Regions from separate parts of the Homo sapiens genome. Here region 2 is linked to region 1. Evidence: fine-mapped expression QTL. Tissue or cell type: thyroid. Region 1 holds a variant in brackets; the other region holds the start of a gene. All regions are shown on one strand. Distances are between the middles of the regions.

The links. PIP is the estimated chance that this variant, and not a neighbour inherited with it, causes the effect.
Region 2: TUBA8 starts here. The variant in region 1 is fine-mapped to the expression of TUBA8 in thyroid (GTEx, PIP above 0.99).

Annotation. Positions count from the first base shown.
Region 1 is chr22:18,142,221-18,150,417 of GRCh38, reverse strand. It overlaps USP18 (ubiquitin specific peptidase 18), which reads right to left and starts at 248. Exons shown (of 11, transcript NM_017414.4): 1 at 196-248. LOC124905076 (a long non-coding RNA gene) reads left to right here and starts at 1,204. Exons shown (of 2, transcript XR_007067999.1): 1 at 1,204-1,318; 2 at 4,478-6,815. RefSeq lists an enhancer at 188-507. The variant T/C (reference allele first, on the strand shown) is at 3,375.
Region 2 is chr22:18,106,720-18,114,916 of GRCh38, reverse strand. It overlaps TUBA8 (tubulin alpha 8), which reads right to left and starts at 4,108. Exons shown (of 5, transcript NM_018943.3): 1 at 4,049-4,108. The coding sequence starts at 4,051. RefSeq lists a silencer at 3,942-4,331 and an enhancer at 4,412-4,611.

The DNA of each region.
Region 1 (8,197 bases):
TCAAAAGTCCAAATAACTATATTAGCTTAGAAAAAAATTCACTGGCCCAAAATATATGCACGTAGTAAATACAGATCACTATCATAATTTGCAGAGCACAATTATTACTTAATTCCTTAATTATCTGACTGGCATAGGAGCAGAGTTGGATGTCTGTGCTAGAAAGAAAACTTCCAAAATGAGCCCCGAACTTGCCTCAAGCGCCATGCAAGCGTCCAGCCTCCGCTGCTGAGTTCCACGTCGGGACTGAGCCGGGGACCGAGCTGGGACCGAAGTTCCGCTCCGGGCCCGCCTTGGTCTGGCCCCGCGCTCGTGGCACCCCGCCCAGCTTTCGTTTTCCACTGAATGGAAAGCGAAACTTACAGCGGCCTCCGCGCCGGGAGCTGGGCGCCAGCGTGCGGGGAAACCCTGCCGGCCCGAGCTTCCCGCGGCTGCCGTTGCAGCCGCGCACCTGCTCCAGACTTCCAGCCCTCGCTTTTTTTTTTTTTTTTTTTTTTTGAGACGGAGTCTCATTCTGTCGTCCAGGCTGGAGTGCGGTTGCGCTGTCTCGGTTCACTGCAAACTCCGCCTCCTGGGTTCAAGCGATTCTCCTGCCTCAGGCTCCGGAGTAGCTGGGATTACAGGCATGCGCCACCACTCCTGGCTAATTTTTGTATTTTAGTAGCGATGGGGTTCCGCCATGCTGGCCAGGCTGGTCTCAGGTGATCCGCCCGCCTCCTAAAGTGCTGGGATTACAGGTGTGGGCCACCGCGCCCGACCTACAGGCGCCTTTTTATTTGCGATTTTAAGGTCCTTGCAATTAGCCTACGTGTTAGAGTCATTTGGCGTTTGGTAGTATCCATGGCAGCATTTTTTCTTTCTTAATGCTATTGTATTTCTTGGATCGGGTGTCTTCACATCACCGGCCTGTGGCTTGGATGCGGCACATGGTGTAATTAGGAGCTCCCCTGTGGGCATGCAGATACAGATATTTCTCCACTTAAGAAGGGGTCAGGGGGCGCGGTGGCTCACACCTGTAATCCCAGCACTTTGGGATGCTGAGGCAGGCGGATCACCTGAGGTCAGGAGTTCGAGACCAGCCTGACCAACATAGTGAAACCCCATCTCTACTAAAAGTACAAAAATTAGCTCGGCGTGGTGGCGCTTAATCCCAGCTACTTAAGAGGCTGAGGCAGGAGAATAACTTGAACCCAAGAAGCGGAGGTTGCAGTGAGCAGAGATCGACAAGAGCAAGACTCCGTCTAAAAAAAAAAAAAAAAAATGGGGTCAAGTCCCAGTGAACCCATCATGAAGTCGAAACATCGTAAGTGAAACCACGGTAAGTGATGGACCATCTGTGTATATATAAGGTTAAGAGATCTGTAACATGCACACCGGAAAGGCTTATTACCTCTTTAGAGATGTATTTCTTGTATGTAGACTCATGGGGGTAGGGGCAGAAGGGTTATCTGCTAGGGGCCTCAAACTCCAGCCGCTGGAATTTGCGCAGGAAAGCAGGGTACAATTCCCCCAAAGCGATCATTCTTTCTGAAAGCCGTCCCCGCAGCAACAGACAAATAGCCTCCAAAAACCCAAAGCTGCCAGAACCTCACTGAAGCGTTGGTAGGGTCTGCAGTAAGGTACAAAATACCATGGCATGAAGATGTATAAACGTGTCCATAATAGGGTGGATGTGTGTTAGAAGCATGAGCACAGATATACACATACAGGCTATCCACACGTCCATCGTCAGCCCAGACTCCGCTTACATTGCTGCTGGAACGGAGGCAGTGTCGCCCACAGTGCAGCATGTTCTCCCTGGAAGGCTGGTGGACTTTGCGCAGTATGGTGTTTACACAGGTACACGGTGGTGGGCGCAGGGTCCGTCCTCATTATATTTGCTGACCAATCAGTTATATAACCAGCTTCATACATCTGGTAAGTCTTGTCCACAAACAGGAACCTCAAAAACTCAAGTGAGGGCAATGAGGAGAGGAGGTTGCAAAATTTGATAAAATATGCTAAATACAGCAAGTCAGTAGAAGGCTAAGGAGCAAGCTGCAGTTGCTTGCAGCAACTATCAGCAGAAAACTATTAATAGTCAATCCAATGATTCTATCTGAATCTTGGTAGGTCGGTGGAGCAAAGTAATTGGTGTTGCTGCCCCAGTGCAGAATGGACAAGGGTGAACCTTGGGTTGGAGGCTGGACTATATAATGTAAGGATCCATTACACTTCTATGGGGCTCTTCCTTCCGTCCTTCATGGTACCCTCCTGAACAATTCCGTGCTAAGGCCATCAGGTGTGTCAAGCAAAGTGGGCGTTTGTGTAGTATGTTCCACAGTGGCCCAAGCAGGGTGCTGGACTGGAGCAGGTTGAGGAGGGTGGCAGCACAGTGGGGCTGCCCAGCACAATGTCAGACACAAATGGGTGCTGGTGCAGCCCGGCCCAGGGTCACAGCCCAAGCAATTTGAAGATGTGGCACATCCCGGTATTGGAGTGGCCCAGTGTGTGGTGTCCAGGGAGGGCAGGGTGCTGGTGGAGATGACAGATTAGTTACATACAGGGGGATGACCAGGTAACTGAATGTATTAAGGATAATTGGAGCCAGAGTTGAAACTCTCAGAGATAGGAGTTACAAATAAGGAAAGGGAGAATGAGCCCACTAGTGTTGAACTGGAATTGGACTTAGCAGTGTGGATCCATGATTTTCAGTATGTATACACAGATAGATAAAGAAGTACAAGGCGGGTGGATCACGAGGTCAGGAGATTGAGACCACCGTGGCTAACACGGTGAAACCCCGTCTTTACTAAAAATACAAAAAATTAGCTGGGTGTGGTGGCACACGCCTGTAGTCCCAGCTACTCGGAAGGCTGAGGCAGGATAATCATTTGAACCCGGGAGGCAGAGGTTGCAGTGAGCCAAGATTGCATCATTGCACTCCAGCCTGGCGACACAGCGAGATCCCCTATCCAAAAAAAAAAAAAAAAAAAAAAAAAAAAAGAAGTACATGTGGAGGTAAACATGTGTATACATGCATACATCCCCTGACTTGGTCTGTAGGGGGCCTGGGAACAGTGACACCCCAACAGTACATCTTGCACCCAGATCTTGGTTTCTAATTCCCATTCTCTAGTAAAAGGAACCAATGTTGCTTGGAGAAATGGCTGTTTCTGGGGTTAAGGCAGAGAAAGTACAAGATGAGCCTAGGACATCTTGTTCTGCCAGCAAGTAAGGGAATGCTCCAAGAATGATGGGGATGTTTCAAAACGATGCAGAAGCCAGCTCCAAGACCATGCTCCCACTGGCCAAATTTGGAACAACTTGAGCATTAAAAGAAATGATGATTTGTTTTGTTTTGTTTTTGTTTTTGAGACGGAGTCTCGCTCTGT[T/C]GCCCAGGCTGGAGTGCAGTGGCACTATCTTGGCTCACTGCAAGCTCCGCCTCCTGGGTTCACACCATTCTCCTGCCTCAGCCTCCCGAGTAGCTGGGACTACAGGCACCCGCCACCACGCCCAGCTAATTTTTTGTATTTTTAGTAGAGACGGGGTTTCACCGTGTTAGCCAGGATGGTCTCGATCTCCTGACCTTGTGATCCTCCTGCCTCGGCCTCCCAAAGTGCTGGGATTACAGGCATGAGCCACCGCGCCTGGCCTGAAATGATGATAGTAACATTTCGACCTGTTAAATAAAATGGGAAGCCACACTTCATACCAATAAAAGTAGATACTGAATAAATTAAAAGTTTGATGAGAAACAGGATATTTACACAGTTTCAAAGTACTCTCCCACAAAATACATATTATTAATTACCATTATTACATACATGTGATACAGGTTCATTCTGCCCGCATGCCATAAATCCATCACTGTGACAGGTTTTGTAAAAGAGAAAAGATTTATTCGCAAGGCAGCCCAGTGAGGAGGCAGGAGAACAGCTCTCAAATCTTCCTCCCCAAAGATAAGTCTTAGGGATATTTACCGGTGAGAGAAGCAGGGTGGTGTAAGGTATGGGCAAAGGTGATTGGCAGTGGGGGAAAATGAGGCAGTCGGTGACCACTGCAAGCATAGTCAGGGTTCGTGGCACTTCACAGGGCACATGTTCAAAAAATGACAGCCTTAGCGTGATCTGAGGGTGTCGCTTGGGGCCTCTGATGTCAAAAGGCCACTTCTTTTGTTTGCACAAGCCTACTTGAAAGCTCACGGTCTCAACTGGTTTGAACTAGGCAGGAGCTGCCCCAAGTTCCTGAAAAACAATTTGAACGATCATGACAGTAGTGACATACATGTTATCTGTAAGGAAGCCGGCAAGGTTAAGTTACAGCGCTCAGTGGCGCGGCCTTCAGCTTCACAGAAAAAAAATAACAAAAGCAAGTGACCCAAAGCAAGCAGGGCAGGCTAAATTGGGCAGACCTAATCAGATGAACCCCATGGTCTCATATGTAATATTACATTATAACTATAAAGAATGTAATTAATGTAAATATTCGGTACAAGAAAGTCATCAGTGCGGGGAACACTGGAATTGCGTGCCACCAGAGGACAGAGTGGAGCCAGCGCGGTATCACTTCTGTGCTGTTCCCATCGAAGGTCAGTAACCGGAACCCCTTCGCCAGGACGCGGGTCCTGGCCAACCCAAATCGAGGGGCATTCTGCAGATCAGCTGGTCTGCCATCTTCAAACGATTCATGAAAATCAAAGACAGCTTTGAGGAACGGCTCCAGACTGGCAGAGACCAAAGAGGTCATAGATGAACAGGAGATCCCCAACTGGATCCTTTGGCTGTAAAGGACAATATTGGCACAACGGGTGAAGCTTGAATGGGGTCTGAGGATTAGGTGGTAGTAACTTCACAGGCGGGGATTTGGGAGAAATGCAATGTCACGTGGAAAACTGACTCTCAAATAGTTCAAGAAGGAAGTTCTTTGGACTATACTTGCAACTTTTCTGTAGGCTTAATACTGTTTCACAATTTTAAAATGTAAAATAATAGTACCAGGTAGTAGTTTTTTATTAAGACAGATTGTGCTTTTTGAAAGCATTGGTGGAAAGATTTCTCAAAATCATGCGCGAAAGAGTTTATAATGAAATTGTGTAATATTTGTTTCAAAAGAAAGTGTGGGCCCTGAGAAGCATTTTCTGTAGTTTACACAGTATTTCTGCCAATTTGGGATACTTTCAGTGTCCCTGGAATTCTCATCATCTGAATTTCTTACTCTTTTTCCCTTTAAAAAAAAATAAAATAAAGAAGTATGAGGCAAAAGGCCACACCTACCTACCTCACTTTAAAATTCTGTCTAAAAACCTGGTCACAGAGGAAGATGTTGGCTAACTTTAATGCGATAATCTAGTTCCCCTCAAAATGGAAAGCTATTTAGAAAAAAGCTATTTGCCCAACGTGAGGAACAATTTATAGAAACTGACAAGAATTTTTGTCCTGGGGAAAGGACAGGGTTTGTTGCATGGGATAAGGGGAAGTGATGTGGCCGGGCATGATGGCTCACGCCTGTAATCCCAGCACTTTGGGAGGCCGAGGCAGGTGGATCGTGAGGTCAAGAGATCGAGACCATCCTGGCCAACATAGTGAAACCTCGTCTCTACTAAAAATACAAAAATTAGCTAGATATGGTGGTGTGTGCACCTGTAGAACCAGCTACTCGGGAGGCTGAGGCAGGAGAATCGCTTGAACCTGGGAGGCGGAGGTTGCAGTGAACCGAGATCGCTCCACTGCTCTCCAGTCTGGCGACAGAGCAAGAGTCTGTCTCAAAAAAAAAAAAGCAAGTGATTTTTTTTAAAAAAAGAAAACAGAACCGATGTCTGAAAAAGTAGTACTCCTTTACAAAACACATTCTCTACAAACGCGTGGTTTCATGTGACCTCTGCTCAGTCCCTTTCCACAACTTTCTCCTGCCTATTTTCTTCTCTGCATTTTGTCAGGATGCTTTTTATTGTAAATTTTACTGTGTTTTGCATGCTTCCAAATATAAAAAATAATTTTTAAGATGAATTAAACATTGAACCTCCCTCTCAGTATTGTTTTGGGAACATGCATTCTCCTGAGGAGAGGGAGCTGTTGAGTGGAAGCAGTCAAACAGAACTCCACATTTCATTTTCCTGGCATGGGTTTCAGGGTGCAACTCAAACAGAATGTGACTTGGCATCTGTCACCTTTCCCAGGCACTCCCTATCCTCTGGCAATTTGTTGCCTTAATGGAGAACCATTCAAAATTAAATATTTTATATTAGAAAAGAAATGTTAAACATAAAGAAAAGTTATACAAATATTATAACAACCTAGTGAGCCTTCCTTCACTAATTTTCTCTCTCATACACACACATCTATGTGTATGTGTGAGTACACAGTATATATGTGTATATATTTACACAATCACTTTTTTTCTTTTGCTGGACTACTTGAGAGTAAATTGAAGAGATTGACATTCTTCAGCTCTAAATAATTCAATATGAACCTCATAGGATCAAAGATGTTTTCATACATAACCCCAGTGCAATTATTACCAAATTCAGATAATTTCATATCCGTACAATTTTCCCATATATAATATATTCAATATTTAAATTTTGACAGTTATCCCAGTATTGTTTATACAGCAACTGTTTTCCTTTGTTTCTTATTTTTATAGATACATAGTAATTGTACATATTTATGTGTTACATGTGATACTTTGATACATGCATACAATGTGCAATGATCAAATCAGGGTAATGAAGGTATTCATCACCTCAAACGTTTATTATTTCTTTGTACTGGGAACATTCCAAATCTTCTCTTCTAGCTATTTTGAAATATACAATAAATTATTGTTAACTATTATCACTGTACAGTACTATCATTCCCTCTATCTAACTATCTTTGTACCCATAACCAACACTTTTCATCCTTCCCTCCCTCCTATTGCTTGCCAGCCTCTGGTAGTCATCATTCTACTCTCCACCTCCCTGAAATCAACGTTTTTAGCTCCCACATAGGAGTGAGAAGGTGGGATATGTATCTTTCTGTGCCTAGCTTATTTCACTTAACGTAATGTCCTCTGGTTTCATCCATGTTGCTACAACCGACGGGATTTCATTCTTTTTATGACTAAATAGTATTCCACTGTGTATATGTAGTACATTTTTTTTTTTTTGAGACAAAGTCTCGCTCTGTCACCCAGGCTGGAGTGCAGTAGCGTGATCTTGGCTCACTGCAAGCTCCGCCTCCCGGGTTCACGCCATTCTCCTGCCTCAGCCTCCCGAGTAGCTGGGACTACAGGCACCCGCCACCACGCCCGGCTAATTTTTTGTATTTTTAGTAGAGACAGGTTTTCACCGTGTTAGCCAGGATGGTCTCGATCTCCTGACCTCATGATTCGCCTGCCTCGGCCTCCCAAAGTGCTGGGATTACAGGCGTGAGCCACCGCGCCCGGCCTTATCTAGCATGTTTTTTATCCATTCATCTGTTGATGGACACTTGGATTGATTCCATATCTTGGCTATTGTGACTAGTCCTGCAGTAAACATGGGAGTGCAGATATCTCTTCAATATACTGATTTGCTTTCTTTTGGGTGTATACCCAGCAGTGGGATTGCTAGATCATATGGTAGTTCTAGTTTCAATTTTTTGAGAAACCTCCATACTGTTTTCCACAATGGTTGTACGAATTTTCATTTCCACCAACAGTGTACGAGGGTTTCCTTTTCTCCACATCCTCCCCAAAATTTGTTATTTTCTGTCTTTTGATAATAGCCATTTTAACTGAGGTGAGATGATACCTATTAATGTGGTTTCAGTTGCATTTCTCTGATGCTTAGTGATGTTGAGCATTTACTTATATACCTGATGGCCATTAGTATGTCTTCTTTTGAGAAAATGAAAATCTTTTTCAGATTATTTGCCCTATTTTTGTTTTGTTTTGTTTTTGAGATGGAGTCTTGCTCTGTCACCCAGGCTGGAGTGCAGTGGGACGTCTCGGCTCACTGCAACCTCTGCCTCCTGGTTCACGCCATTCTCCTGCCTCAGCCTCCCGAGTAGCTGCAACTACAGGCGACCACCACCACACCCGGCTAATTTTTTGTATTTTTAGTAGAGATGGGGTTTCACCGTGTTAGCTAGGATGGTATCGATCTCCTGACCTCGTGATCCGCCCGCCTCAGCCTCCCAGAGTGCTGGGATTACATGCCTGAGCCACCACACCCGGCCCATTTGCCCATTTTTAA
Region 2 (8,197 bases), 36 kb after region 1:
GGACTAAGATAAGCTAATCACCATCCTTGGCAAAAGGAGACTTTGAAGCCTTAAAAAGGCTGTCTTGTGATACTATTTCCAAGTATCACAAGACAGTAAAAGTGGCATATCATCTGGGAGAGGGGCCGACGTGGACCACAGTGTGTGCCCTGTGAAAGCCTGGCACCACCCACACTCCCTGACCACCTGTGCTCTCATGCCCCAGTTGCTGTCAGGAAGCATGTGATTACACCGAATTATCTCTAGTTGTCAGGCTGGGATAAAATAGATCACATATATCTTAGGACCTAGGTCAGGGATGGCAAGTGAAAAGCAGGCCCACAGTGTCACAGAGGGGTAATTAAAGTAAGGACAGATGTGGCTCCTGAAGGGCTGCTGAATTCTCTCTGCTCAGAACTCTTCGATCATAGGGCATATTTGAGATCACTCATAACAAAGAATAGATAGCAAGCCAGACACAGCAAAAACAAAGTCGGCCTAAATTCACTTTAGCGAGTGAAGGTGGCTCGCGAGAGGGGCTCAGATGATAGGCACTGCAGTTAGGGCAGCAACAGAGCTCACAGGAGGCCAGCTCTGGCCATGAGGCCATCTGCTAAGGAGACTTCCAGCATAAGAGGCCGGAGGGCGTTGAAGGCCTGGGCTGTGGCTGGCACTGGGGCAGGTGCAAGAGACACTTAGGAGTTTCAATCCGATGCACACAGTGCCTGCTCCATCTCCTGCTCTCTTCTGCAGCTTATTATCTGAGAGAACTCCTAACAGGAAGACACTGCAGGGGAAATGCCAACCACAAAGGCCACAGATAGTGCTGTCCGTCCCTTGCGGCTTGAGGGAAAAGGAGCATTTGGTCTGCTTCCTCCCCCCGACAGTGCCACATCCTCCTGCCCACCCCCATCACTGGCCCGCTATCCACCAGCTATTTCCCCCACCAAAATTATTTTTAACTTTCATCTCCCTTTGAAGGTCACTAGGAGAAAGCACATTCAACAGTGGCATTAACCCCCACCCCAAGCTCTGTATGGGCCTGACCCAAGGCTGGGGGCTCCCAATGGACTCACCAATCCAGCAGCTCTGCCCCAGCCGCTGCCCTGTGAGCCAAGGCCCCTCACTCGGAGGCATGCGCCCAGTGCTTCTCGGGAAACCTGCCTTTTGTGATGGGAGGGGAGGAGGAGGCAGCAGTGACCTGCAGCCCCTGGGAGCCCACACAGTGCTCTGAGGTCAGAATACACCTATCAACTCCACAGAGCTTGGCCATGCCTGTCTACATGGGGAGACTGCAGAAGGCTGCAGGCAGAAGGGTGTCCATTTGGCCCCCAGAACCCTCTAACTGCCCATTTTTGCAGGGAGACGGGCTCCTTCGTGCTCTCCAGTCCTAACGGAATGGAGTTAAAGAAGCCGTGTTGCAGATGTTCCCACCTCCCCATAAACCACAGAAAACTTCTCTGTGCCCTGGTATCATTGGCATGGGCTTGGCTTAGGGCACCTGGCCAGGATTCTCCATACCACTTCCCAAAAAAGGTGTCATAGTCTGAGTTCCCAGAGAGCTGCGTGCTAGAACACTGGGAATGGATGGGAATGGTCTGCTGTGGGAGTAGCCTGCCGGTCCCAGCACGGGCAGGTGGCTCAGGACAGAGGCTCTGGTGCCCAGCAGATGTAAACTCCAGCCCCTACGCAGCTTCTTACCAGCTGTGTCACTTTAGGCTCCAGGACAGAAATGCTAAAGGGTATTGGTGGTACCGTGCAGTGGGTAGCTGGGGAGAAGGGGTTGGGGGTAAGTTCACAGAGGAAAAATGCTCATCTGCCTAGCAGCTAGAGAAATGCATTTAAAAATACACTTAAGGATTAGTTACACTTTTCTTGCCCAGAGCCTACAGAAATTCCAAATCGAATTCTCCTTAACACCAAGGTCACCTCCCCCAAACCCCCACCAGGGAGGGAAGTGAAGGGGACAGGACAGCAGCCTGAAACTTAATCCTTAGAAGAAATACAGTCATTTTTGTAAGGGTGAGATTCTAGGGGTCTAGGTTTATAGATGTGTCATTTTAGCCTTTTACAAATGAGCCAAATGATATTTTAAAAGTTTCTGTGAGTGTAAAATGTTCAACAAAAAATATTAGCCATCAAGACAGTGCAACGCACACAAGTTAAATGTTCTAGATAGAACCTACTAGACAAAATTGAGTGTTTCAAAATAAATGAAAGGTGGTCGCATTTCAAAATATTTAACCATAGGTTTTCAGCTAAACACCCAAATTCTTAAGCACGTTCAAAATAAAGTTTTGCTGTTTGAATTGTTGATTTACCAGGCATTGTCAGAAACACGTCTGTGGATCACACATTCAAGCTTGTGCACAGGGCTGGGTTAAGATCCTCGACACGCCCCTGTAAACATCCTCTGGGCTCCACTCTGTACCACAATGGCATTCAGATCCAAATTAAAGCATGCAAGGGAAGCACTTGGAAAATCCTAAAACACTAGCTACCTGCTAGATATTATAAATATTAAATATCAATTCTAGAGTATGCAGCCTAGCATTTGCTTCAAAATTATGGAGGGAGGGAATAAATGAAGTGAGACAGGTCAGAAGTTGGTAATTATTGAACTTAGATGATGTATATAATCGCTAATTATACCATTTGCTCTCCGTTTGCATATGTTTGAAATTCCCTACCATAAAAAGTTTAAAAATAATGAAATCTAAGTGGAGTCTTGGAAATTTGAATTATAACCCTCTTCATTTCGCAGGTAAAACAAACACATCCAGAGAGGTTAAGTGACCTTCCTGAAGTCACACAGCTAGCTGCAGAGCCAGGAGTCAAAATTCTGAACTGGCAGCTCCGGGCCCTTTGTGTGGCCTCATACCAGGGTCCTCAGGCAGAAATAGGTTCCTGTGGCCACCCTCCCTAATATTCCCAAGTTCTTTCAGTTCCCAGGGGTGTCTGGGAGCCCGCTAGGAGGAGGGAGGGTGCTGACAAAACTGAAGCTGGAAGGCTAGAGCTCCGGGGGAGCCAGGAGGCCCTGGGCACGGGCCAAACGTAACAGGGCGGGGCGGAGGGGGTTCTCGCCTGCTTTCTGGATCACTGACACCTGGAGCAAGCCTGCCCAGGGAACCCGACCTTGGCCATGACATAGGCTTATTCTGCCCTCACTCTGCCCCCAATCTTTCCAGCCCATCTCCCTACTGCTGAAAGATCAGGGGTCCAGGAGGGATTCCTGGGATTCTGGGCTTTGGGAAAGTGGACTGGGGGCAAATGTTAACCACCAGGGGCACTGGGGGCGGAGAGGGGGACCCTAGAAAGAGGAACTGAGTGTTTGCAGCCGCCCCTCAGTAAGATCCAGGGGCGGGGGCAGGGAAGGGAGCAGCCGCGATCCCCCTAAGCCAGGGTAGGAAACAGGTCGAAGGTCCCCTGGCCTTTGGAAGCAGAGACTTCTTACTCCCAAAGTCCTTCGACTCTGACCGCTGGAAAGACTTGGGAGCTGCTGAGTGCGCCCGGAGGACCCCGCCGCGCTGGGGCTGTGCGTGCAGCAAACCCAAGCCGCTGGCCAGGCTTGCGAGAAAGACCTCCACGCGTGGGGGGACCGTGGCGCCCTAGGTCCTCTGTCACATTCCGGGCCCTGTCACATTAGGCTGGGTTCGGAGACGTGACTGCATCTGGCCCCCCAGTCGCCCCGGCCCAGACCACCCATCCAGAATCCCCGGACTCGCCCTTCTCTCCACTCTGTCCACAGGCTGCCCATCTGGGGACCCCAGAATCTCGCCCCCTTCTCCGTCGGGCTCCCCAGGGCCTCCCTCCCCCTCGTCTGCACGCAAAGCTCCCTTAGGTCCCTTTAAGGAACAACTGGCCCCTGGTCTCTATTTCCCCCATACGATAAAGGGCACCGGGTGTTCCCGCCCGAGGGTGCGGACTCCTCGACCCTGAACTGCCACCCCCAGAAGGCCTTGAGCCCTGCGGCTCCAGGAAGACGGGTCCGTGCGCCTCCGCGTAGACTCGGCTCTCGGTCCTACGCCTGCCGCGCGCCCGCAGCCCGCCTGGCCCCGGGAAGCCTCACCATCGCTGCCGCTGTCCTCGCCCGCGCACCTCTCAGCTGGGCCTGCCCGCCCCGACTGCTCCAGATACAGCCGCCTCCGCCGTTGTGACACACCGGGAGGGGGGGACGCCGGGGACAGGCGCGCCGGGCCCGCAGCTGCCCCCCGGCATCACAGTGCCGGGGAGGGGCGGGCAGGTCACAAAGGCCCCTCCCCGCCCACCCGCGGCTCAAATCTCCGGGTCCTCGGTCCCGCCTCAGCAGCCGGGGGCGCTCGCAGCGGGGACTGCGCCCGCGGGGGAGGCTGCCCTATTACCAAAGCGCACGTGTCCACGTTCCAACACCGCCGGCGAGAGCAGCCTTCGTGACCCCAGCTGCCGGAGAAAGAAATGTAAAATGCAGCCAGGCGAATCGCGCGGGTCTCCCCAAACTTCCGTTCTCCTCCGACCCGCTGGAAAGGCTCCTGACTGGGGTGCAGCTGACCGGAGCGGGCTGCAGCGGGCCCGGGTGCCAAGGTGCCGTCTCAGCTGGGCGCCCTAGGGCCGTGTGTGCTTGGCAAGCTGCAGGGCCTCTGCTCCCAAAGCCTGTGCCTCCTGCCGCCAAGGCCCGCCTGGTTGCTGGAGACGGAAATGAGATGGCATACACAGAGCTCCTGGTACAGGCAGGTGCTGAAGACTGTTCCCGTTTTTACCCTCTCCCCGGATACCTCGCACCTCCACCGGGATTTTCAAATCTCCCCCCTTGATCCCTTCCTACTTTTAAGCCCCAAACGTGTCCAAGTCACATCTCCTATGTAATCCAGAACTCATACCAGGGTTCCCCTGCCTCTGCCCAGTAGTAAGACCCGCCAGATGCTGTTGGTTGCCCCCTGCTCGGGAAGGGGTGGGCACTTGGTAAAAGCCCCTCTTCACACTTTAGATGTTGGCCACGTTGTCACCCTGCCCATCTCCCCTCACTTCCCCCCAGGTGGGTGAGGGGCTGGATGGTCTTTGTTCCTTGTTCTCACTGCTGTTTCTTGTTCTTTCCCTCCAGTGGTCAGTTCCATTCATGTTGAAAGGTGTACCCCAGCCTCTCTCTTCCACTTTCCTCAGCACCAAGCCAACGCAGGCAAATTCATAGGTTTTCCTTAAGACAATACCACTTTAGCCAGACGTGGTAACTCCCCAAGTTTCCAAGCACAGTTAGAGATCTTCCTACCCTTCTGCTCCTAAGACATGCCTGCTTGTGGCCAATAGAGAATGAGAGCAGATTTCTGCTTACCTATGCGGCAATCTGTTCTGTTGGCCACCCATTCATAAACGATAGTACATGTGTCGTAATCATCTTTGCATTTGAGAGAGTACCAAACACAGTGCTTTACCCACTGATACAAACGGTACTTAGTAAAGCATGCGTTGAATTTTTGTCTATCTTATAATGTAAGATCCTGACAATTAAGACTCAGGATTAAGCTAATTGTGCCAAGCACATGATAAATGGTCAATAAAGGATTTTGGTTATTAGTATAACTCTATGTGTATTTCTCTTCCAAACTCTCCCATAGCATATTCTATTACTTCTTCCATAGCATTTCTTTTATTTTTTATTTTTTTTGATGGAGTCTTGCTCTGTCGCCCAGGCTGGAGTGCGGTGGTGTGATCTAGGCTCACTGCAACCTCCGCCTCCCGGGTTCAAGTGATTCTCCTGCCTCAGCCTCCCGAGTAGCTGGGACTACAGGCGCGTGCCACCACGCTCGGCTAATTTTTTGTATTTTTAGTAGAGACGGGGTTTCACCGTGTTACCCAGGATGGTCTCAATCTCCTGACCTTGTGATCCACCCATCTTGGCCTCCCAAAGTGCTGGGATTACAGGCGTGAGCCATCGCGCCCAGCCCCATAGTATTTATCACTTTCTTTTTCTTTTTTTTTTTTTTTTGAGACAAAGTCTCGCTCTGTTGCCCAGGCTGGAGTGCAGTGGTGCGATCTGAGCTCACTGCAACCTCGCCTCCTGGGTTCAAGCGATTCTCCTGCCTCAGCCTCCTGAGTAGCTGGGATTACAGGCAGGCGCCACCATGCCCGGCTAATATGTATCTTTAGTAGAGACAGGGTTTCACCATGTTGTTCAGGCTGGTCTCGAACTCCTGACCTCGTGATCCACCTGCCTCGGCCTCCCAAAGTGCTGGAATTACAGGCGTGAGTCACCGTGCCCAGCCGTATTTATCACTTTCTAGTTTGGAGTATAGGGGTGTGTGTGTGTGTGTGTGTGTGTGTGTGTGTGTGTGTCTAAACACTCTACAAAACAGCAACACCTTAAAGGAAGGGGTTGTGTTATTCATCTTAGTGCCCTCCCTACCAAAAATAGCTAGTTGAGTGCATCAGGTGAGCTCAGTAAACATAGCTGAATAAATTCACTTTTCGAGTTCTCTTTGTGAACCACCACATAAATCATGAACGGGTTCTTAAGGTGTTGGGATAAAGATGATGATGATGGTGATGATGATGATACTAGTAATGACGGTGGCCCTGAATTGCCTTTCATTATGACAAGGCTCTTGAACCACCTCATCTTTCCCCTTTATGAAAATTTGGGCTGGAGGGAGCTATGACTACACCATAAATGCTAACTATAGCATCTCTGGGTTCCAGGGAGATAAAATAGGTTGGCTGTTATGGACTGAACTGTGTTTCCCCAAAATTCATGTGTTAAAGCCTAATCCCCAGTGTGACTGTAGTCAGAAATAGGGTCTTTAAGGAGGTGATTATGATTAAATGAGGTCCCAAGGATATGACCCTAATCCAGAAAGACTGGTGTTGAAGAGGAAGAGACACGAGGAGGGTGCAGACACGGAGAAAAGGCCACGTGACGACACACCGAGAAGGCGGCCATCTGCATGCCAAGGAGAGAGGCATCAGGAGAAACCAACTCTGCCAACATCTTGACATTGGACTTCCAGCCTCCAGAATTGTGAGAAAATTTATTTCTGCTGTTTAAGCCACCCAGTCTGTGGTATTTAGTGATGGCAGTTGTAAGCAGACTAAAACAGTGGTCTTGGAGTCTTTAGAGAAAAAACAATTGGCTGGGTGCAGTGGCTCACGCCTATAATCCCAACACTTTGGGAGGCTGAGGCGGGCGGATCAGCTGAGGTTGGGAGTTTGAGACCAGCCTGACTAACATGGTGAAACCCTATCTCGACTAAAAATACAAAATTAGCTGGGCATGCTGGCGCATACCTGTAATTCCAGCTACTTGAGAGGCTGAGGCAGGAGAATCGCTTGAACCCAGGAGGTGGAGGTTGCAGTGAGCCGAGATAGCACCATTGCACTCCAGCCTGGACAACAAGAGTGAAACTGTCTCAAAAAAAAATCTACTTCTTTTTGGTTTTTGTCCTCCTTCTTAAAATTATTTGATTTGTGGCATCCTGGATCCCCCATCTCACCCTGCTGTATGCTTTCCTCCCTGGGTATAAGTTTGGAAAGGGGAAAGGACATGTTTTTAAGTCCCTGTGATGTTTAATTTTATGTGTCAACTTGACTTGGCCACAAAGTACCCAACATTCATTGGTCGAACATTATTCTGGGTGTGTTTGTGAGGGTGTTTCTGGGAGATAAACACATGAATCAGTAGACCATGAAAAGCAGATGGCCCTCCTTAATGTGCAGGGGCCTCATCCAACCAACTGAAGAACAGAATAGAACAAAAAGGCTGAGAAACAGGGAACTTCTGCCTGCCTGACTGTTGAGCTAGGTAGGACATTGGTCTTCTGCCCTTGCACTAGAACTTTCACCAGCAGCTCTCCTGGTTCTCAGGCCTTGACTCAGACTGAAACCACGTCTTCACCTCTCCTGGGTCTCAGGCTTCAGACTCAGACTGGAACTACATCTTCAGCTCCCCTGGGTCTCAAGCTTCAGACAGACTGAAACCACATCTTCAGCTCTCCTGGGTCTCAGGCTTCAGACTCAGACTGGAACCACACCATCAGCTCTCCTGGGTCTCAGCCTTCAGACAGACTGAAACCACATCTTCAGCTCTCCTGGGTCTCAGGCTTCAGACTCAGACTGGAACTACGTCTTCAGCTCTCCCGGGTCTCAGGCTTCAGACAGACTGAAACCACATCTTCAGCTCTCCTGGGTCTCAGGCTTCAGACTCAGACTGGAACCATGTCTTCAGCTCTGCTGGGTCTCAGGCTTCAGACTC